Regions from separate parts of the Homo sapiens genome. Here all the other regions are linked to region 3. Evidence: fine-mapped expression QTL. A gene starts in region 3. Each other region holds a variant in brackets. All regions are shown on one strand. Distances are between the middles of the regions.

The links.
Region 1: its variant is fine-mapped to the expression of TRIM44 in whole blood (INTERVAL, PIP above 0.99).
Region 2: its variant is fine-mapped to the expression of TRIM44 in whole blood (INTERVAL, PIP above 0.99).

Annotation. Positions count from the first base shown.
Region 1 is chr11:35,707,004-35,715,189 of GRCh38, reverse strand. The region is part of intron 2 of TRIM44 (tripartite motif containing 44); the gene reads right to left. Among named protein-coding and RNA genes, the nearest start is that of TRIM44, 48 kb to the right of the region's middle. The variant C/A (reference allele first, on the strand shown) is at 4,936.
Region 2 is chr11:35,804,652-35,812,837 of GRCh38, reverse strand. TRIM44 (tripartite motif containing 44) reads right to left here. Exons shown (of 5, transcript NM_017583.6): 5 at 1-6,480. The coding sequence ends at 6,453. Among named protein-coding and RNA genes, the nearest start is that of LDLRAD3, 140 kb to the left of the region's middle. The variant A/TTTTTA (reference allele first, on the strand shown) is at 4,631.
Region 3 is chr11:35,659,086-35,667,271 of GRCh38, reverse strand. TRIM44 (tripartite motif containing 44) reads right to left here and starts at 4,497. Exons shown (of 5, transcript NM_017583.6): 1 at 3,492-4,497. The coding sequence starts at 4,160. RefSeq lists enhancers at 3,809-4,309, 4,521-4,840 and a silencer at 4,101-4,480.

The DNA.
Region 1 (8,186 bases), 48 kb before region 3:
TGTTCACACTGTCAGCTGCTATAACTTTATTGCCATGACAACTTGATGTGTAACCCAGTGACATGACACTGAATTGGATGCAACAGAAAGCAGTTCACTGGGGATGCTGGGTTCACTATGACTCAATACTAATGCTTGCTCTTAAGTTGCTTCTCTTTGCCTGACCCCAGGGTGGCAATAAAGAAAGCAATCACAAACTTCTGAGCAAACAAAAAAATTCTGGGTGGCCCCTGCTATAGGAATATGAAACTAGAAGAATGTGTCCCCAGAGACACCCAGGACTTGTAACAACCAAGAATAAGGGTGAGAGCTTCTATTCCATCTTGTTTTCCTGCTTTCTTAACACCTTAGCCTATGCATAAACTAGAAAGACAACTTCTGCTTCGGGAACTATCGTGTAGAAGTGGGAGGTGGAAAGTGACACTGAAAGTTTGAGGGGCAACTATACAGAATTTATACTATTTTTAAGTCTTGACTTAAAATAAGTTAGACTTGAATATACAAAGAAAGCCTATTTTATCTGAAGATTAAAGCAATTTTAAAATAAGACTCAATCTCCATTCCAGTTCTCTCAAGCAGTTTCCCTATAAAGCCACAGTTATTTGTATTTTATTAAAACACAACACCAAAACAACTGCATACTGCCACAAATACTCAGGAAAGGGCACTGAGACGTAGCTCTCATGTTTGCTGAGTCTTCTTTCCTACATAGGGTCACAACGGTACAGCATATGGACTTTGATAGAGTAGAGAAAGGGGTTTGAGGACTGGTTCTGCTAACTCCATGCTTCTGAAGCTCAGAAAGGTGAAAATTTCTCCATAAAAAGTTTCTTTGTAAAATGAGGGTAATAATAACATTCTCATAGATATTTTTCTAAACTTAACACAAAATAATACATGGAAAGCACTTAGGGCTCTCCGGGCACACAGAACCATCAGCAGAACCATTCTGCTCATTAGAGATAATAGTAACTGTGAACTTTTATTGTGTGCCTCCCATATGGTATCTACTGAGCTCTCACAGAAGAAGAGTCCCCAATAAGCTTTCCTAAAGAAAAGAGGGAGCCTATGCCCTTGGGAGTTTAGATCTAATTTCCCAAGGGAACATCTAAAAGACTTTCCTACTCATCCTAGGCATTGAAAAGTAAAGATATCAATACTGAGGCTCCTTGCCTCAGTTTCAAATAAATGGCCACAAGGTGTCAAGGAGCAATGGCTGCCTTTTCTGATTTGATCAGATCTGACTGCCCAACATCTCAGGGTCAGTCTACTTCAATGATACAGAAGCAAAGTACAGAAAGCACAGGAAGGATGGGTCACATTCTGTTCCTCTGTACCTACACAAAGTCAGTCTATGGGCGTAGTTGGCTCCTCAATCTCACAACTTGCCTCTCATGGTATTTTCTCTTCTTTGTAGACTGAAACCCTACTCTACTCCCTTAAGGAGCTAACAACCTGCTTACCCAAGAACCACAGTGCTCTTAAACTAACTACAGTTGCTAACATACATTTAAGTCCCCAAAATCATCTTCCACTGTTTCTTATCTCCTCACAAGTTTTCATTTTCAGGATCTTCATTAATAAAAATATAGTATGATTAGTCCTCCTTTATAGATAAAACTGAAATATATGGACTCATGTCATCTGACTCCAATATTTGTGCTCTTTCACCAAAAAAAAAAAAAAAGCATGTCATATTCAATGTAAACTTTTACCCTTAAGTCTGAACAAATACTACATTGGAATACCATTCTCAATACATCTTCTATAGGCAAAAGTTAATAACTTCTATATAGAAGTCATAGAAAGGCAACTTACTAGCATCTTTAGCCTCGTGAACAAGTCACTTAACCTCTTAAATCTTTGTTTCTTCATTTATAAAAGGGGATCATAATGTCTAAATAAATGGGCTGAGTTAGGAAGTAGGGAGACATGGTAGAATCTATTTTGCCTGCTGCAGAGGTAAACAAAAGTCATTAAACAAGGGGATGAACATCAGCTGAATCACTGGGTTGAATGAAATGTCTCTTCGTAGGTGTAAAGACCTGATAAATTCTGCCCTTTGGCTAAATGCAGTCAATCAGGAGAGAGGCACTGTTCTCAAATTTTATATTTATATATATGTATAAGCATCTACATATAGATCTGAGGTAGACCGAGAGTTGCATTCTGCAGGTTTGGTCTAAGAATATCAAAGAAAACACCTTTTTCCCTGAGCAAATCTGATTTTATTTCTTTAACTGAATGAGAGCTTGAACTAACAGGGAAAGAGGAAGGAGGGGGACAGGAGAGCAGCAGGCCCTTAAATAAAAGTCTGGGTGATTTTATCACTATTATCACAATAAAGTTTTATATCTAGGTACCCCGGCTCCTAAATTAACTGTCAAATACAATCCTGCACTGGAAACCTGAAGCGTGGCTGCTATGGGGGAGTCCTGACAGCTTCACTCCTCTCTCCAGGTTCGCTGTGTAATCAGCCCTTCAAGCTTTTGGCAAAGAGTATACTATCAAGTCTCCTGTCAGTGCAGAGAGGAGCTGGAGCAGGAGGAAGAAGACATCACAAAGTGTTAATTTTATTAAGCCATTTAAAGCTCAATCCCTCTGCTTTGTAACAATGCTCCAGTCCACCAGGCAGCTTGGAAACCATGCCCACCTTAGTTTTTAAATGACTATAATCTATTGGTGCTGTGGTTCAATTAGGAGGTCTGGGGCTCCAGTAAGAAAGAGAAGGATAAGGTAAAGCTGCAGGGGAAGGGAGAAGAGGAGGTAGGGAGTGAAGAATCTCAGTAGCGTTTACTTTAAAGTGGGAATATATTTCCTAATGTGTTTCTTAAATAACTTTAAGTAAAGTTATTCCTAAAATAACTTCTTTATTTTTCTTATAGTTGGGCACCAAGCAGTTCTGCTAACTAGGGAGTCTGCTTCATAACAATAAACATACTTGCTTCAATGCATTGATTTCTTCTTTCTATTGGGAATATATGGACACACAACTACACACTCCCAAGGCAGATACATTTGCTTTGACTTGAACAGGCAACAGACCTATGCTGAACTACTGCCAGTTACTCTGCAGCCAGGCAAGTTCACTCACAGAGTGAGTGAGCCAACAAACCACACACCAAGGGATCCCAAAAGTGGAGACTGAACTCAATTTATTTGCAAGTCATTATCACTCAAACAGGTATCAATGGCCCTTTAAAACATGCAATTGGTGTCATTATTCCTAGGAAGTGTTAATTGATCAAAGCATAGAATTATTTATAAACAGGTGGCTTATTTTTCTCTACAAGGCTTGGAAGGTTTCTGGAACTTTGTGGGGAGGAAGGTGCCCTCACGTACCCTTGCCCTTCTGCTGGAAGTAAGGGTTATTCTCCGGACTGGAGGCTAACAGCAGCCACAATTTATAGGAGGCTGTACTCTGCACTTTTTTTGAAACAGGATCTCACTATGTTGCCCAGGCTGGAGTGCAGTGGTACAGCCATGGCTCACTGCAGCCTCGATCTCCTGGGGTCAAGAGATCCTCCCACCTCAGTCTCCCAAGTAGCTGGGACAATAGGCATGTGCCTCTATGCCTGGCTAATTTTTTTTTAATTTTTAGTAGAGATGGGGGGTCTCCTTAATGTACTCAACACTTTAAAAGGATTATCTCACTTATTTTCCCAACAACCTATGAAATATGTACTATTATTCCCTATTTTGGAACTGAAAAAAAAAAAAACAAAAAATCTGAGAAATGAAGAGATTAAGCACAGATTTGCCCAAGGTCAGATAGCATTGAGCTGATAGGGCAATTCCTGAACTTTTAATAATTGTAGTATACTGCCTCCTCCTGTCAGAGGCCAACATCAGGTTTTTAACCCTCATCCCTGTCAGGAAGAGAAAAGGAAAAAGAAAATTAATATTCACTGCTGACACTTCAAGTGAATGGTTGAAAAAACTGATTCAGGCAGTAATCTTGTTCTCTTTCAACAGTTTTATTGAGATATAATTCACATATTTTACAATTTACCCATTTAAAGTATACAATTTTGTGGTTTGTAGTATATTCCCAGAGTTGTGCAACTATCATTACCATTGGTTTTAAAACATTTTCATCACCCCCAAAAGAAACCCCATTGCTATTAGCAGTCACCCCACATTCCTCCACCTCCCTCAGTCCCATACAGTATTGAGTCTCTTTCTATCTCTATATATTTGCCTATTCTGAACATTTCATATAGATAGAATCATATATTTGGTCTTTTGTGAATAACTTCTGTCAGTAACTACTGATGGGGTTCAAGATATGCTATCCCAAAATATGACTGTAGGAGGCCAGAATATTCCATCCCAAAATACGCCTCTTTGGCAGAAGAATTGTTTTGAGCTGATTATTTGGAGAAACTGCAAATACAGGAGAAGTACTGAAAACAAGGGAAGTTACCCTTTTGTAAGAGAAATGTACATCTGTAAAGGAAATCTCCATTTGCAGGGTTGTCTCCCTCTCTATACCAGGAAGAGAAGGATGACTTCCAATCACTAGAAACTCTTTTATGTTATAAATGGAGAAGGCACCAACTTAAATCTGCATAATAAACTTTACCTTTGTTTACTATGCTTTTCCTGGGCATCTCCCCATAACTAGCCTTCCCTTCCATGGTATTCATGCCTGAACTCAAAGCTACCTCTTTGGGATTTACTTATCTTCCCTTAGGTATCACATGCACACACGAGGTATATATGTTAATAAACTTGTTTTTCTCTTGATAATCTGTCTTTGTTAAAAGGGTTTGTCTCAACTAAGAATGCTGAAGGGTAGACAGGAAAATTATTGTTCAGAATCCCAGTTTTCTAAATTGAGGTTCAACAATGGAACAGGATTCAAATGATAAAATTGTATCCATTTATAAGAGATAACCTTAGGTGAAAAAGGTAGGATACAAAGCTCTCTCT[C/A]TATATATATATAAAGCAAACTAAATATGGCCTGAAAAGGACTCTGTAATTCTATATTTGAGTCCTTGTGGATGAACTGTAACCTAACTTAATAGACAAGATTGAAAACTTAATTTAGGAGTATGCGCCTGTAACAATCACTGAGTCTTCGCCAATCCCAGCAGCCATATTTCATCCAGTCACACACTGCTGAGGGTTCAAACTGTGTGCAAATAAGGCAACTGCTGAACTGTAATGAATCCAGCTGTTTCTGTACCTCACTTCCAATTTCTGTATGTCATTTTACTTTTTTTTGGTCTATAAATTTGTTCTGACCACAAGGCATCCCTGGAGTCTCTCTGAATCTGCTGTGATTCTGGGGGCTGCCCGATTCACAAATTGTTCATTTTTCAATTAGACTCCTTTAAATTTAATTCAGCTGACGTTTTTGTTTAAACAAATGGTGTCAGAAGTGGGGTCTGAAGTATAGCTTCTAACGACCCCCAGGAGTGCTGAGTGAACAAGTAAGGTGCCCACAGGATCCACTTGTGTCCTCTGATCTCTCAGAGTAGCTGGGGAGTGTAAGTTGTCTCTTGGATTTTGGAGCCCCACGGATTTGCATTTTGAGCTCTCCGAGTTTCTTTGAGCAAATTTCTGAACCAAACTGGGTTTGGAAGTCATGACGGAAACTGGGCTGGGTCCAGGAATGGATTTGGTCTGGTAATTAATTGGCTTGGATCCAGTTAGAGGCCTCTTACATCTGACTGGGTCAGAAAGAAACTGACAGCAAATGGTAATATTTTAGGGGTATAAAATTTAGCTCTTAAAGATTTGCAAGGATTTTTTTGTTTCATCCCTTTGTTTCATTTTTCTTGCCCACTTAGGTAGGAAAAATCATTGGCTAGGTTAATCAAGGGAATCTGAGAGCAAAGCCAATATTTTATGTAAAAATGGGATACATAACTTCTGAAAACCTGAGTTCCTTCTGGCTTATGCATTAGGCACAGGAGGCAGCAAAGTCTCACAGAAAATGACAAAATCTTACTAAAGGTAACTTACAGTAGAATGTTCTGAATAAACAACAATGCACTGAAGTGCATTTACAAATGAGAGCCTCCAAAAATTAAATCTGCTAATCTTTCAGCTTAGTTACTATCCCCATCCAAAGGAAATAAACTGCAGCACCAATTGGCTGACTTTGGATAAGTAATGGGGTACGTTTTACCTGAGTAAAGGAAGGGATTGGGGTAGAGGTCCTCCTCTCAGTAAAGTTCTTTTTTTTTGGGGGGGGGGCATGGCAACATCAGTGCATGTTTATTTATTTATTTTAATGTGTTTTCATTTTTTATTTATTTTTTATTATTATTATATTTTAAGTTTTAGGGTACATGTGCACAATGTGCAGGTTAGTTACAGTTGTATACATGTGCCATGCTGGTGTGCTGCACCCATTAACTAGTCATTTAGCATTAGGTATATCCCCTAATGCTCTCCCTCCCTCCTCCCCACACCCCACAACAGTCCCCAGAGTGTGATGTTCCCCTTCCTGCGTCCATGTGTTCTCATTGTTCAATTCCCACCTGTGAGTGAGAATATGCAGTGTTTGGTTTTTTGTTCTTACGATAGTTTACTGAGAATGATGATTTCCAATTTCATCCATGTCCCTACAAAGGACATGAACTCTTCATTTTTATGGCTGCATAGTATTCCATGGTGTATATGTGCCACATTTTCTTAATCCAGTCTATCATTGTTGGACATTTGGGTTGGTTCCAAGTCTTTGCTATTGTGAATAGTGCCACAATAAACATACATGTGCATGTGTCTTTATAGCAGCATGATTTATAATCCTTTGGGTACATACCCAGTAATGGGATGGCTGGGTCAAATGGTATTTCTAGTTCTAGATCCCTGAGGAATCGCCACACTCACTGACTTCCATAATGGTTGAACTAGTTTACAGTCCCACCAACACTGTAAAAGTGTTCCTATTTCTCCACATCCTCTCCAGCACCTGTTGTTTCCTGACTTTTTAAATGATCGCCATTCTAACTGGTGTGAGATGGTATCTCATTGTGGTTTTGATTTGCATTTCTCTGATGGCCAGTGATGATGAGCATTTTTTCATGTGTCTTTTGGCTGCATGAATGTCTTCTTTTGAGAAGTGTCTGTTCATATCCTTTGCCCACTTTTTGATGGGGTTGTATTTTTCTTGTAAATTTGCTTGAGTTCATTGTAGATTCTGGATATTAGCCCTTTGTCAGATGAGTAGGTTGCAAAAATTTTCTCCCATTTTGTAGGTTGCCTGTTCACTCTGATGGTAGTTTCTTTTGCTGTGCAGAAGCTCTTTAGTTTAATTAGATCCCATTTGTCAATTTTGGCTTTTGTTGCCATTGCTTTTGGTGTTTTAGACGTGAAGTCCTTGCCCATGCCTGTGTCTTGAATGGTATTGCCTGGGTTTTCTAGGATTTTTATGGTTTTAGGTCTAACATGTAAGTCTTTAATCCATCTTGAATTAATTTTTGTATAAGGTGTAAGGAAGGGATCCAGTTTCAGCTTTCTACATATGGCTAGCCAGTTTTCCCAGCACCATTTATTAAATAGGGAATCCTTTCCCCATCTCTTGTTTTTGTCAGGTTTGTCAAAGAACAGATAGTTGTAGATATGCGGCGTTATTTCTGAGGGCTCTTTTCTGTTCCAATGATCTATATCTCTGTTTTGGTACCAGTACCATGCTGTTTTGGTTACTGTAGCCTTGTAGTATAGTTTGAAGTCAGGTAGCATGACACCTCCAGCTTTTCCTTTTGGCTTACAATTGACTTGGTGATGCGGGCTCTTTTTTGGTTCCATATGAACTTTAAAGTAGTTTTTTCCAATTCTGTGAAGAAAGTCATTGGTAGCTTCATGGGGATGGCATTGAATCTATAAATTACCTTGGGCAGTATGGCCATTTTCACGATATTGATTCTTCCTACCCATGAGCATGGAATGTTCTTCCATTTCTTCGTATCCTCTTTTGTTTCATTGAGCAGTGGTTTGTAGTTCTCCTTGAAGAGGTCCTTCACGTCCCTTGTAAGTTGGATTCCTAGGTATTGTATTCTCTTTGAAGCAATTGTGAATGGGAGTTCACTCATGATTTGGCTCTCTGTTTGTCTGTTATTGGTGTATAAGAATGCGTGTGATTTTTGTACATTGATTTTGTATCCTGAGAATTTGCTGAAGTTGCTTATCAGCTTAAGGAGATTTTGGGCTGAAACAATGGGGTTTTCTAG
Region 2 (8,186 bases), 150 kb before region 3:
GACTGCTACCCTTAGACTTTCTTTCCCTCACTGTACATTGCATTTTACAGGCTATACAAAGCAAGACCTTCTTTGCAAAAGGCAAACTCCTTTGCCCCAAGGCCATACTGTACATGTGTGGGGGTAGTTGTAGGGGGATCAGTGTTGTTATTCACCAATACAAGATGGAATCAGTGCAGCTAGGAGAGAAGAGATTAAGGAAAGAGGCTGTGAAGTCTGCTAGACCTGGGTTTAAATTCTGGCTTCCCGCTTATTAGGGTGTAACCGTGGTCACAGTACTTAATTCTCTAAATTTGATTCCTGAGCAACAAAGTGGGGAATGATAGTATTGGTGCTGTTACTATTATGATAATGTGAAAAACAACAGGAGAGTACCTGGCCCAGAGAAAGAGCTAAGTGACAGCTCTTATTAACATAAATGAATGATTTAAACCTGGAGATTACAATAGTTAACAAGCACAGACACTTAGTGCAGTCTGTTACTGACTTCAAGCAGTCTTTTGCTTTTGTTTCTATTTCTGTGACATCTTCTCTTATTACGACTTTCTGTTGGGTGTCTCTAACTCTGGTGCCTTGTGAAGGCCAGGAGATATTCCAGACAAGCTGAAATTCTACCTTTTTATGAGTATAAAGGAAATGGGGCCATGTTGGACCAAACAAAGAGTAATAAAATAAAATATAGAGTTGTAGCTTTCAGAGGGAAAGATAAAACAAGAAAGGGCTGGGGCAATGGATGTGGTGTTGAGATACTGGCACCAGGAAGCAGGGAAGAAAACCTCCAAACACATTGTGGTTTGTTAAAACACTGAAGACTCCTAAGTGCTACAGTGGCAGGCAGTGCCACCCCACCAGGCAGCAGTGTCCTCCGCAACTGGGGAAGAGGAAGTAGGGCCTAATGATTGCTCTCGGAGACAGAGAGTCTGCTGTCCTGGGCTTTACCAGCCTGGCTTGTTGGGTGACCTTGAGTGACTTATCTCCCTCTCTTGGACAATTTTCTCAAGGTTCTCACACAGTCCCTAGCTAACTAAAAGGGTCTGATGAAGATAAATGTGTTAAAAGAAAATTTAGAGGAGAGTCCACAAACTGTCCCTCCAGATACACCTGCTGGTGGGTTTTAGGATTTTTAAACATTAAATTTTAATGCATTTAGGCAGGGCTTGGTATTTTCTAATTCACACAGTATCTACCATCTTGAGTCTTCACATTTGGCTCCTGAAGGCCTCTGAGTATATGACTTCTGATTTCAATGCAACCTCTGGTCCTTCAAACCAGCTTGGAATTGCTTCATTTACAACTCATTCTATGTTTTCATCAATTACATGCAAATATGTATTTCTAAAGTTTCACAAAACAAAGATTTTGTTGGCCTAACTGTAATTTGCTCTAAAAGACATTTTTTTTTCTAGAAAATATGGCAAAAATTACAATTTTACCTTCCTTCTAGTTCATCCAAATTCTAAAACTTTAATGTTATTTGAAAACATAATTTGGCACCAAGTATTCTTTAGGTTATAATCTAAGTTGCTCATAAAATGTAATCTAGGCCTGGATCATTTTACTTTGAGGAGAAAACTTATCACTAAATAATAATGATCTTAAGTCTGTTCTTTTGCCACTTCCCAGAGCTCTCTCCTAAGGCACTGTGGAAAAGTCAGGAGTAAATTAGACTCCCACATCTAGTAACCAAAACACCATCATCTCCAGCATTACCACAGTCAAGTATGCAGCTCGTCATAAATATTTACACCTTGCAGGGTCCTTTGTGCACAACTCTGAGAGACAAATGGCATTTCCAGTAATAGTTTATTGATTTCCAAATGCACAGGGGCACCAAGTCCGAACATCCTGGGATAGCAGTAAATCTCTCTTACAAAATAATTTACAGTATGAAAATGATATACTGAAACATTAACCCAAACGTGTAATTCCCTTGAAAGATTCAGTGTTCCCTTGTTTAATGTAAAGGGTGGAAGGGGAAGATTCCTAAGGAGGGAATGTGACTGTGCACAGGAAAATAGGCAGAGGACAATGGATTCATTGGTTCTCCCCATTCATGCAGTGTGGCCTGTCACTGTAGAAAGACTGGTCAGGTTTAACCCTCATTAAGTATTAATCTGCTGTCCCCTCAAAGTCATATCAAGCCCAGTATGGGCTCCGTGGCTTTTTTTGCACCAATGTATCCATAAGTGTCTCCACTTATTTTCATTTTTCTGCTCTGGCCCTCGTTCTGCTGTTTCTGGTATGTTCTCAGTTCCAAATTATACTATCTTATCTTACCAGGCAGGCCTCCAGAATCAAGAACTGCCTGAGTCTTATGGTTTCTGGAATGGGACAGGGTAGGGGGCTTCATAAGCACTGCTGGATAAAGGCAATAATAATGAGACTGAAGTCTCCCATATGGGCCTTCTTTTTCTCTTAGAGCTGGGCTGGACTCAATCCATAATGAGATTTTTTTAAACATAAAAATCTGATGTGATCAGCACACAGTAAACGTGCAGTTAATTTTCTTATTGAGAAGCATGTATTGCACAGCCATTATATGAATGTGGAATTTCAGGAATGGCAAGAGAATATTTTCTACTTGGGGAGAGAGGACTTCCTAGACCCTGCCACAACTACAAGGTCATGAATTCTGCATTTGTGCCCTTAGGTCTAACTGGAGTAGTTAGACTCTCAGGTCACCAAAATGGCTGGGCATCCAAGTTTCCCATCTTATTAGACATCCTGGAGGAGGGCTGGAGTGCAATTTCCTTCAGGGCTGTCACTTTGACTCAGTGCCTTAGGAGCTAATGACCTTTGCTAGGGAATTGCTCTTCCTGTAAGCAAGTACCTAAGCCCCAACTATATGGTGACACTTGTAATTAGGGCTGACAGAAATCTTTGAAGTAGTACGCAAGATAATGAAGGGGCTGCTTTGAGTTTTCCTTAGCTCTCAAATATTGTGTGTGTGTGTGCGGACATGTATGTATGTATATACATATACACACATATCACACTTGTCCTTTATATATAGGTACACACTCCCCCGACACACACACTAAAACCAGGAATCAGTAAGAGAGTCCAGATTCACTGGACTTTGAATTGCCACATCCTCACAGAGTACACTGGCGGCTAAGTTTACTAAAATATGAAGATTTCCTTTTCTACAGGAGTGAAGCTGCAGACATTTTCAAATAAAGTTGAGTAGAGAGCAGAACACCCTTCACTTTTACTACTGCTGCAAAGTTCTATATCTTTGAAGGCCAAGAAACACCTTATTTATGGAAGATGGCATGAAAAAGGAAATGTTCTCCTAACTCCTGGGGGTGGGCTCAAGTCAGCAATGTGTACTTAAAGCATCTGCTAAAGGGGAGAAATAAGGCTACCTCAATGCCATTTCTGAGCCCTAACTATAACTGTGAAATGTCATTTTGAAGAAGATTCATAAATTGGGATGGTCAGCACACAGTGGGAAAACCTGAAGTCTTTTTATCCTTCTGTTTTTAGGTGGACCATGGTGTGTGGTACAAAGTGCCTGTCCACAGAATTAGGGGGAGCTGCGTTCAAGATTTGGCTTGAGTATTTCCTAGCTGTATAACTTGAAGCAAATGACTCTTCCACTCCCCATCTGTTTTATTATCTAAGAGACAGCTCAGGGCCTGGCTCATAGTTGTTCCTTAATACAAGTTATTTCCCTTCTTGGGCTGTCAGAGCCGAGACTCCAAGCACTTCTTGGGACTGTCCTGGATTTAATGATATCAAATCAAAGTCCCTCTCAGCATCCAGAAATTCAACATTTGAAAGATAGCCAGAAATTGCTATGAGTATCCGACTGATTCTGGAAACATTCATTACCTGCCTCCCTTGGTGACTTCTCTTTAGGGGTTTCAGCAAACCCTGCCACCTGCACCCAGGCAAGACCCAATTCTGAGCTCTCTAACTTTTACTGACCTGGCAGGAGGGAAGCCTCATCATGCTGGGGCTTAAGGCCAAGCAGCATGCTCCAGCTCTAGGGGAAGGTAGTGCCACTGCAGGAAGCATCCTAGTTCTTACATTGATAAATGCTGCCGGCAGGAACTTAGAAGCCTGGGCAAAAGCTGCTGCACTGTGTTTAATGCTTCCCTGGTTAAAGTTTTATCAGGTACTGAAGACAGCAGGAGTCTATAAAGCAAATCTGAAACGCTTTCTAAGTAAAAGCAAAAGTGCTTTCCTTGAGGATCACAGAGATATGATAAGTTACTGAGACAGGTTGGCAAATATTTTTATATTTCCATTTATATCCACTGCATAAATGCTTGAATTTCCCAAATACTGATTCAAAGTAGTAACATATGATCAGATATGGAGAACCAATGATCTGTCTATTGCTAATATAAGGCTACTATTTGGAGATCAAACAATGATTATTGGGGAAAGACAATACAAGCTTCCAAATCCTAAAATCTTTTTAATCTTCTGATACTTAAATTTTTTCGAGAGTGGCCACTGGTCCTTCTTTTAGGGTACTTTTGTTGGATATGATTGGTGGTTGTAATTAATGGTATGCCAAATTCTCCAGTCTTTGCAGAGATAGGTAAAGCACCAAAATTGTCCTAGCCATTTCTTGGCCATCAGTTTGAGAGAAAAATGCTTTTTTTTTTTTTTTTTT[A/TTTTTA]ACACCTCAAACTCCCCTCAGCCCCAATATCCTGGCATCTTTAGTGAGTCAGGACAATCCTAACCTAGAAGCATATATGCCTGGGAGCTTCCTGGCCTCAAAGGAATAAATCTTTTCACAGCATTCACAGGACTGAAAAATAATATAAATAGGATTCCTACAGTAAACAAGTATTGTTTCTGTTTCAAAACCATCCTGCAAGCATAACAATCAGCTGGTCCTAAAGCCTGTAATACGTACACAGGTCACAGGCAGACAGGCAGGCAGGAAAAGGGATTTCCCCCAGTGCAGGCTCCTTTGGTTCTGCCTCAGAGGCACTAGAAGTCTAGGCCCTGGGTTAACAGCAACCCAGAGTCTGCTTGGATATGGTTCTAGTTGTATGCTTCGTAAGTGAACACCAAAATACCATAAAGGTAGAGGAGAGTGAACACATAACCCACTTGCAAATAAGAATTACCTTGCAAGATTCCTATTTTTTTATCTTAACAGTCTATGCGTATGAACATTTTATTCTATAATATAACTTTTATATAAAAATAGGTCATCTTATGACTCTAAACCATTTGGTAAGTAAAACTGATGCTTCAAGAAGATGCAGGTTTTTAAGTTTGCAGTTTTACATTCCCCTAGTACATCCCTGCTTACTCGGGAGCACAAAGCTTGGTTGTAAGAAATTGTGATTTGGAAGTAGAGAAAAGCAAGGAAGTCCAACCTCAGGAGTGTCTCTGTTACTAAGAGGAGAGTGAGATCCAGGGTGTGGGAGATGATCTGAAGGTCTATGGGTGGGGAGTGCCACAGGAAGAAGGGTTCTGGTCGGAGTTAAAGGAGGATATATCTATATGCTGGGAGATGAGCTGAATTCAGAACACATGGAATGGGAACAATTCTCCCCATACTGCGTTTAAGCCAAATTAGGCTAAAATGGGGGTGGGACTAGCAAAAACCTACAATGGAAATTCCCATTTGGTAATATACATTCCAGCCCTTCACGTTGTGACAAGCCCATAAAACCTGCAGAATTCACCCAAATAATTCTGGTTCTATTAGATCCTTTACTGACTATTTTGGAAATTCAAGCAATTTGAATTCAGAAATACTGATTTCAACTTTTAATCAGACTTCTTTGGTCCTTTTTTTTCCCCCTAAGGTCATTTCCGTTCCACCTCTTCAATCATTTTTTTCATTTCCACAGCACTGAATTATGAATATCAAGTCCTGGATAACTTCATATACTAAAAATATCTCTTCCTCATCTTTAACTCTTTCTCCAACACCTTTTTCCAGTCATCCATCTTAATTCATGGCACCACAATTTTCACAAATGTAGAACTGGACTTTTAGGGACTGTCCACAAGAGTTAATTTGGCCCTACCTTGCTCTCATTTATTTCATGCTTCAATATGAACAAAATTGGGTTTTTGTTAATAGGCAGGGAGAAAACTCTGACTTCCCTTCAAGATTATTCCAGATCCTTCCTAACAAAGCGATACTGTTTGGTAATACAATATTATGGGGGCTGGCTTTCCTGAGTAAGTTCAAAGCAGCCATTGAGGGATTACCTGAAGGACCTTTCTTAATTGCTCCTGGTGGATCAAAGGGGCTCTTTTCCTTGACCTACCACAACCAGGGGATGAGAAGCACACAGTAAGCATAAAACTGGTCATCCCTTGGAGAGATATGTGCCTGCTGTGGATCTGGGGACACATCTGGTGGAAGTACGTTTGTTGCTGAGCAGCTTTCACAGAAATCAGAAGCCGTTACATACACGCTGTCACATACACACAAGGGGAGGGGATGATTTTCCACTGGGGGTAGCAAGCCTTCATGTGTCCTCTTCTTCACTGGCACCACTACAAAGGAAAAGGAGAACCAGGTGAGTTAAGATATCACAAGAAGGGAGGCAGCCTAGTCTACTGGTTGATAGCACAGACTTTATGTCAGACATACCTGGAATTAAGTCTTAACTACCATGATTGAGCAATATGGCCAAAGGCAAGTTACTTCGTTTCTCTAAATTCTGATTTCTTTATCTGGCCATAGGGGGAATGATGATAAAACTTACTTTCTTGAGTTACTAGAGGATTAAATAAGAGAATACATATAAAATGCACAGTACCTGGTATACAGTACGTGAGCAGCTATTTAAAGGAGCAGGTGAGAGTCATAATTCTTTTAAACTTAACTGACAAAATAAATTGCTGGTAAAAATCAGGTGTATGATTTCCTCTAAGCCTTAAGCCATCTACTGTTAGGAGAGAAAAAACAAGGAGAAGCTACTACCATCTGCACTCTCAATGGCACTCTGCACTTGGAAAAAAAATCCAAGATTTCAACTCATGCCATAGGGACATATGCCACCTCGTCAGAGAAGGTACTCTACTAAGTAGGACTCCCTGGTGATTCTCTATCTTATGTCTGTCATAGGCCTTATCACATTACATAATTTATTTGTTTACGATTTACTCTTCTCTCTACCCATGACTACAGCATATAAGAATAGCAACACTTTATTAACTATGTATATCTAGCACTAGCACTGGGCTGGGCACATAGAGGTGCTCAATAAATAATTGGTTTTTAAAAGGAAGTGAAATACAAACAACAGGAAGAAAGGGAGGGAGGGATGGACACAGTTGAAGGGACTGGTCAGTCATTACTGCCCTGGCCAGGTTATTCCAGATGTTAGTGATGTTTCAGTGGTCAAATAGTTGTCAAGTCCCTCAGGCATGGCTAGTACCTCAGCTGCTCAGAGTTACAGCCCCTCTGGCTTGGACCTGGGAGAGAACACTGTTGGTACAGGGACTGGGGCAAGGAGAAGGTAGAGCCTGAAAATGCAGGAATGAGCACACTCAGAAAAGCAAACGTAGCAAACTTGCCTAGTTTCTCCCCATCCTCTTCTATAGGTCACTGCCCTTAAAATAGTAACAAGAGCCAGCTTGAGCAAGTGCTTACTGTGGACCGGGGCACTGAATTACGTGTTACTCACCCATTCTTCCTATTATGTAGGGGCTATTATTATCCCCCGTTTTCCAGATGAAAAAAGTGAAGCTCTAAGAGATGTAAAATCCTAGGGTCACATAGTAAGGTCTGTGTCCTTAAAACTCAAGGTTTAGTTTCAGTTGGATAAAGTCTGAAGTGGTCAAGCTGGTAGAAAAGGAAAAGGCCTGTAGAACATCAGCTCCCAGCTATTACCTAGAAATTTTTCATCTCACAAGGGATTATCTATGTCTATATAAAACCTGTGCTCTTTTGCATCCATCTGGGAAAGACTTTAAGGGAAAATATCCTAGGCAGCAAATTTCTAGAACTTCCACTAAGGGCAGAAACATTTCAAGAAACAGGTCCTGCAAGTTAAGTGTATGCTAGGAGCCAAAAGAACCAACTCAATAATCTTCACCATTCCAAACTCTGCCCTGTTTCCACTCCCCTTTCCTGCTGGTTATACAATCATGGGATGAAGGGTGCATGCTGGAAATGCTGGACAGTGGGCTGTCATTAAGAAGCAGTATTTAATGGCATCTGTCCCAAAGGGAACACAGGGTCTTTTATGAAAGCT
Region 3 (8,186 bases):
AATTAATGTAATTCATCATCATAAAAGTGAAAGAGAAAATCACATGATCATCCCAAAAGATGCAAAAAAAGCATTTGATATTAAATAACCAATCAAAATTCAGAAAAACTTAGCAAACCAGGACTAGAATTTTTTTAAACTGATAAAACATATCTATTTTCAAAAACCATAGAACATATCACTTATTTGTGCAATGTTATCAATTACTGCTAGACTAGGAACAAGGCCAGAATACCCACCAACCACATCCATTCAACATAATACTCGGGGTGCTATCCAATGCAGTAAGGCAAGAAAAAACAAATAACAGATATAAGGATTGAAAAGAAACAAACAAAAAGTATCTCTCTTCACACATAATACAATCAGGTATGTAGAATAAATCTACAGATAAATTATTAGGATATGTAAGATAATTCAGCAGATAGATCACAAAAAAACAATATATAAAAGTTAATCATATTCCTATATTCAATTAGAAAACAAAACTTAAAACCATTTATTTTTATTTTAGAGATAGGGTCTTGCCGTGTCGACCAGGCTGGAGGGAAATGGCAGGATCATAACTCACTGCAGCCTCAAACTCCTAGACTGAAGCAATCCTCCCACCTCAGCCTTCCATATAGCTGACAGGTGTGAGCCACTGTGCCTGGCTCATATTTTCTACAATATTATAAAATTATGAAGTATCTAGGAATAAATTTTACAATGATGTGAAAAATCTTTGAGGAAAAAAATATAAAACTTAACTGCGAAGCAATAAAAAAGACCTAAATTAATGAATCAGAAGACTTCATGTTGTAATGATATTAATTCTCCCTATATTGGCTTATAAATTTAATATCCAAATACACTCCTGCAGGCTTTTTAATACTATGATTCTAAGAAATGTAAAGTGCCAAAACTGGCCAACACACTCTTGTAGGACAAGATGGAAGGACCTGCTTTACCAGATATTAAGACATATTATAAAGGGATAACTGAGAAAACATGCTGTTCACACAGGGATATACTAACAGATAAACAGTAGAGAACAGAAGAACCAAGAAACACATTCACACATATTATGGGCACTTGATATATGACAGTGGGACAGCAAATCAGTGCACAAAGGAAGGGCTTTTCAATAAATACAGCAATAGCAATTGGCCATCTGTATGGAGAAAAAATGAAATTGCGCCCCTACTTCTACTACACAAAAATCAATACTAAGTAGAACAAGACACAAAAAGCACTAACCATAAGGAAAAGTATTGATAAGTTTTACCACATTAAAATGAAGAGCTTCTATTCAAGGCACAACTTCTTTAAAAAGAAAAACCACATAGAAGATATTTGCAACCCACATAGAAAGAACAACAAAAAAAATCAGAAACAAATATATAGCTGGGCACAGTGGCTAACACCTATAATCCCAACACTTTGGCAGGCAGATCACCTGAGGTCAGGAGTTCAAGACCAGCCTGGTCAACATGGCAAAAACATCTCTACTAAAAAAAAAATACAAAAATTAGCTAGGCATTGTGGCATGTGCCTGTAATCCCAGCTACTCAGATGGCTGAGGCAGGAGAATCGTTTGAACCTGGGAGGCGCAGGTTCCAGTGAGCTGAGATCTAGCCACTGTACTCCAGCCTGGGCAACAGAGCAAGACTCTATCTCAAAAAAAAAAAAAAAAAAAAAAAAAACAGATATATAAAAACTCATATAATGAGAAAAGACAACTCAATAGAAAAATGGGCAAAAGAACTGACTAGGTACTTCACAGAGGAAGTATAAAAGATCCTCAAAGTCATTAGTAATCAGAGGAATGAAAATTAAAACCACAATAAAATACCATTACATAGCCACAAGATTGACAAAAATGAAAAATACAGTAATAGCAAGTTTTGAAGATACAGAGCAACAGGAACTCTCATATACTCTTCATAGTGATTCAAACTGGTACAACCACTCTGGAAAATAGTTGGCAACATGTAGTATTACTGAAGATATGCATAGCCTCTGACACAGCAATTTCACTCCTGCGTTTATATTCCACTTAAATGTATGTTAAATGTACACCGAGACATGACCAAGAATATTTACACTGACATTGTTTGTAACAGCCCGACGCTCCCAAACCTGGGAACAAATCAAATGACCATCTATGACAGAATAGATAACTTGTGGCATATTCATAAAATGGAATTCGAAATAGTAATGAAAGTGAATAAACTACAGTCACTCATAGGATGACTCTCACAAACACAATGTTGAGAAAATGAAGCAAAACCCAGAAGAATGCATGATAAAAATATGACACCCATAGTGTCAAGTTCAAATAAGTTTAGGAATGCATACACATGGAGTAAAAGCATAAAGGTAAGCAAGGAAATGATCACAGAAGTCAAGATTATGCTTACTTATGCAGAAGAGAGATGGTTATAATTGGAAAAGGTATGGGGAAAAGGCTTCAATATTGCTAGTAATGTTCTATTTCTTAATCTGGATGGAGACTACCTCAGTACTTGTTTTATAATTATTTGTTAGACTGTAAGTTTTTACACACTTTCTGAATGTGCATTTTACAATTATAAATAGGCACTAAAAAAGGGAAAACCTAATACAGAGGATCTTCACTCTCAAGGTATTTGTTATCCCAATGCCAGCTATTCCCTATTCAGGGAAGCAAAAGTCATCATAATATGACAATGTTCACTAATACAGATTACTTAATGAACTGATCACTCCACTCAAAATTTCCCCCTCCCTCCCCGATTAACACCAGCAGTTTCTCTCAATGATAGTAAACATCCACAATATGAATAAAAGGTGCATCGTCTGCAAATTCATTCATTCAACAAATATTTCCGAAGTGTCCACTGTTCTGGGGGACCAGTAAGGTCCACGACAGACAAAGATCCAGACAGAGGACATGGGAACTTCCACTCCCACCCCAATTTGGCCTCCATCTTCTTACCCTCCTTTTCTACTAAGTTTCAAACACGAAGAATCTAAAATGAACTCGGGGCACATATGAAGTTACTATTAAAACTATTTTGTTAGTCTTTTCAATGCAGACGTATCACTTGCTTGGATTCATGTGGCAAAATCCTATTTCCCATGTTTTCAAGTAGGCAAAAAGATTGCCTTATCAAGAGCCCTAGCACAAAGCACCAGTTTCAACAATAGTGATGCTGTGGAAATTGGCCTAAGTGGGGTCAAAACTCCCAAGAAATGCTTTACCTGGGATCCACAGACCAGAAACTTGCAATTTTCTAGAAATTGTATACTAGATTTTGTGTGTATTTTCTCAGGTCAGAGTCCAGAACTTTCATCAGATTCTCAAAAGAGTTCAACCAAAAACGGTGAATAAGAACTGCTCCCAAAAAGTTGGAAAGACTAGCTTCTTAGGGACACAGTGAAAGCGAATGTGGTCACAGCCAGGCCACCTGAGTTGAAACCCAGGTGTCCTGACCCCTAGGTTTATGCTCTGAAGGCCCAATACTTACTCTTAATTCTTCAAAGGCTTCGTCTAGGGTGGAGAGTTGGTGGCCCTGGTGAGCCCCAATGACTGGACACAGGACACAGATGAGCTGCCTATCTTCCTGGCAATAGGTACTCAAATCAAGCCCATGGTCCGGACACTTCCTCTTGGCCACTCTCTCTGCTTCCATTTCTATTTCTGGGTCAAATTCACTTTCTGCCTCAGTTTCTCCCTCCGCCTCGGATTCCCCTTCTTCTTGGTTGTCTTCTTCGGCCTCGCTTTCTTGCTCATCCTCCATTTCTTCCTCGCTGTCTTCTTCACTCTCCTCATCGCTCTCATCCTCACTCTCTTCCTCTGTCTCGCTCTCTTCCTCTGACTCGCTCTCTTCCTCCGACTCACTCTCTTCCCCTGCCTCGCTTTCTATCTCCCTCTCCTGCTCCACCTTGACCTCCGCTTCTTCCTTCCCCGCCCCCTCTCCGTCAGCTGGCGGGGTCCAGGCCTGGGAGCCGTGGACGTATTCGGCCAGATGGTGACTGAGGAACTTCTGCCTGTGCGCCTCGGCATGGCGGCGGCAGTAGCAGAAGCCGCATTCTCGGCACACTTCCTCGGCCCCCGGAGCCTCGTCGGGCTCGCACTCGTCACACGTGCCGTCGTGAGGCAGTTCCTCGAAGGCCGCGCCCACTCCAGAGGCCATGTGGGTGCTGTGACGCGGCCAAGGCCTCGGGGCCCCGGGGCTCGCCGCCTTCCTTCCGCGCGGCCTCACTTCCTCCTCCCGCCCCGGGTCCCTTCCTAGGGAGTCGCCTCCCGCCTGGACCGCGCCGCGTCTCGAAGCGGGACCTGGGGCCGCGGCAGCCCCTGCCCGGGCGCAGCAGCAAAGACCCTTTCCGCCGGCTCGGCCTGCTCCGCTCTGTCCCTGCGCTTCCTCTGCCGCGCAAGGCACTTCCGGCGCGGCCACCCGGCGCCCCCGTCGGCCCCCGCGTCGCGCCGCCCGCTCAGCCTCCCGCTACCAGGGAGAGATCGCGGCAGCCGCCGGCCCCCGCGCCGCCCCGGTTCCACTTTCCCTTTCCCCGTCAGGAGGCCTCCTTTTACTTCCTGAGTCATTTAAAGTGGCAATGACCCTTTTCTGCTTTTCCCGCGGGGCTCAGCTCCTCCGCTCCAAATCTCAGCGTGCCTTGGAGGAGGAGGAGGGAGAAGGAGGATGGAGGAAGTCTCTTACTCTCTCCAGAAGCAGGAATTGGGCTCCACCTCCCCCATTCCCTCCCTGGAAGTGTCAACTTGAGTTTTCACGGCCACTAGGCTGGTGTCCCTGTGCATTTCAGTCTCTCTTGTGCCAATTTGTCGCCGCCCGTCACAGTCCCCAGTGTTCTGCAAGGTGCCCGGACAGTGTTGTTTACCAGACTGAACCTGACCTCTTGGGATTTCCTGAGTGCGGAAGGGCTATGTTTGTTCTAGGCTAGGGGAATTGGAGTTAGGATGAGCAAACAAATATTTTCGATCCAAAGCAATACTGTGCTTTGTCTATTTGCATTGCTACCTCCTAGGATCTCAGAATTTCTGGGGTGGTAACCTCTGTGCGGTTTTCTGAGAGCTGCCTTCGGTTGGGCAGAGACGTCAGGTGAAGTGAGGTGGGGAGAGGCAGTATTTGTCGAGTGACAGGTCCAGGTTGCAGTCATTTTCCTTTATGTAAGGTGTCCCTCTAGATTCCCACTGGGCTCTAAGAGAAAAGAAGGGAACTGTTGTTTATAAAGCAGTACTGTAGTGCCAAGAACCCGGCTACATCTTTTTGTGGCTCTTTAAAAGCCGGTTTTGGAAGATCCTCTGCCCGATGGTCCCCAAATCCTGGTGCCACTACCTATCAGTTTTATGACCATGGACAAGTTAATTCATCATTCTGTTTTCCGCTTTTTAAAAAAGATGTTAAGTGAAAAGAACGGTAAATATCTACCTCATGGGGTAGTTTTGTGGATTAAATGTAACGATGCCTGCACTGTAGAGTATTCACTAAGCTTTCATTATTATTTTTGGCACAAATTATATTTAGTGCTCACAATGCCCCTTTGAAGGAACATATTTTACACACACAGGGCATTTTCGGCTGGCTGCTGGTAATGTAGGCAAGTCTCCACCTCTACCCCATATCCATGTCTCTCCATTCACAGAAGAGTTTTTGTTTTGCACTGTATTTGGGAGAGGGAAAATTACGTTTTTATCTAGTCAAGGGAGAGGCTGAGGTGTATTAAGAAGGATGAAAGGGGATGGAATGGTGTCTGTTTTACATTGATTCCCTTAGATGATTTTGAGTTAGAATTTCCAGATGCTTTCCTCAAACATACCAGGGGATGAGGTGGGGTAAAAAAACCTTTTTAATAGTTTTTAATGTCTCCATGGATAATGTATGCCTAATCTTTGTGCAGCTTTTGTTAGATATTTATTTTTTAGAAACCTTTCTTTTTAACCTCAGAACAATTCTATACAATGTTGAAAAAAATCAGGTTTATTTTGTTCCAATTCCATACACATTTCTGTTTTCCCCCAGCTCATTTCTCTGGAAATTATTTCTGTGTCTGCTTTTGAAACATGAATTGAAGCACCATTCTGAAAAAAAAAATTCAACAAATGTCAACTCAAACATCAACGTTAATATACCTAATGAGAAGTGTGCCTTGCTTGGTTATTTCTACTCCTGTCCTCCCCCAGGCTTAAAAGGAAACAACTTAGCCTTTACAAACATAACGTTCTCACATTTAGAAAGTCTTTTATTCAATGAAAATAATTTTTATTTTTTTTATTTATTTTTTTTTTTGGTGACAGGGTCTCTCTCTGTTGCCCAGGCAGGAGTGCAGTGGTTCAATCACAGTTCACTGCAGCCTCAGCCTCTTGGGCTCAAGCAGTCCTCCCAAGTGCCTCCCAAGTAGCTAGGACCACAGGCGTGAGCCACTAAGCCCCACTACTTGTTTTGGTATTTTTTGTAGAGACGGGGTCTCACTATGTTGCCCAGACTGGTCTTGAACTCCTGGACTCAAGTGATCCTCCCACCTCAGGCTCCCAAAGTGCTGGGATTATAGGTGTGAGCCACAGGCCTGGCCTTTTTAATATCTTAAAAGGACATTGTTGTATCCAGGGTATTTGATGAGGGGAGGGGGAGTCATGTCATCATTATTGTTATTACTGTTTCTTCTTAATGTTATCTGACAGAAAGTTAAAATATAATACTGTGCAGTTCAGTATCTGACACTTTACAATTCTTCTTGAGCACTCTGTGGAGAAAGGGTCTTAGAGGCAGACAGATTAAACTTTTTTTTTTTAAGATGGAGTCTTGCTCTTTTGCCCAGGCTGGAGTGCGTTGGCACGATCTTGGCTCACTGCAACCTCTGCGTCCCGGGTTCAAGCGATTCTCCTGCCTCAGCCTCCCAAGTAGCTAGGATTACAGGTGTGTGCCACCATGCCCGGCTACCTTTAGTATTTTTAGTAGAGATGGGGTTTTGCCATGTTGCCCAGGTTGCTCTCGAACTCCTAGACTCAAGTGATCCACCAGCCTCGACCTCTCAAAGTTCTGGGATTACAGGTATGAACCACCACACCTGGCCAGATTAAACTATTAAAAAGGGACTCCATAAATTTCTGGTGACAAGGTGTGGCAGACTCAATGAGGCAGATCTCTGTACCCCTCTGCAGAGAAATCCGAACCATCTGATTCCCCAGGAATTAGTATCTTTGGGAGTGTCCACAAATAGCACCCTTGTTATATTAACCTATTGCTACATAGAAAATGACATCAAAATGTAGCAGCTTAAAACAATAAACATTTATTATCTTACATAGTTTCTGTGAGCAAGGACTCTGGGAGTGACTTAGCTGAGTGGTTCTGACTTAGGGTCTTTCAAGAGATTTTGGTAAAGATGTTGGCTGTGCTATCGTCACTTGAAGGCTTACCTACAAGCATAGAATTTGCTTCCAAGATGGTTCATTCACATGGCTGTTGGCAAAAGGCCTCACCACTTTCTATAGGGCTGCTGGAATGTCTTCAAGACAGGGCAGTTGAATTCTCACAAAGCAAGTGATCCAAGAGAGGGCAAGATGGAAGATGCAATGTCTTTTATAACCTAAGTTCAGAAGTCACACGCCATCATTTCGTACATAGCTTATTGGTTAGAGATTAGCTCTATTCAGTGTGGGCAGAAACTGCACAAGGGCTTGAAAACCAAGAGATGGGAATCTTTGGGGCCATCTTGGAGGTTGGCTGTCACAGTCTGCCCTTTGGCCACCAATGATTCACGTATCTCCCAAATGTAAAATACACTCACTTCTTCCCAAGGTCCCCAAAAGTCTCAACCCATTATATTATCAGTTCAAAGTCTGGAGTCCTGTCATCTAAATTGGGACCAGGTGTGGATGAAGCACTTTGGTGTAGTGTTTTAAGTGCAGATCCTCAAGTATAGTTCATTTGAATGCCTATGTCTCCCACACCCCAACATGCAATGGTGGGACAGGTTTAAGATAACTGGTACAGGCTGGGCGCAGTGGCTCATGCCTATAATCCTAGCACTTTGGGAGGCCGAGGCGGGCGGGTCATCTGAGATCAGGAGTTGGAGACCAGCCTGGCCAACATGGTGAAACCCCATCTCTACTAAAAAAATACAAAAATTAGCCAGGCGTGGTGGTGCATGCCTGTAATCCCAGCTACTCAGGAGGCTGAGGCAGGAGAATTGCTTGAACCCAG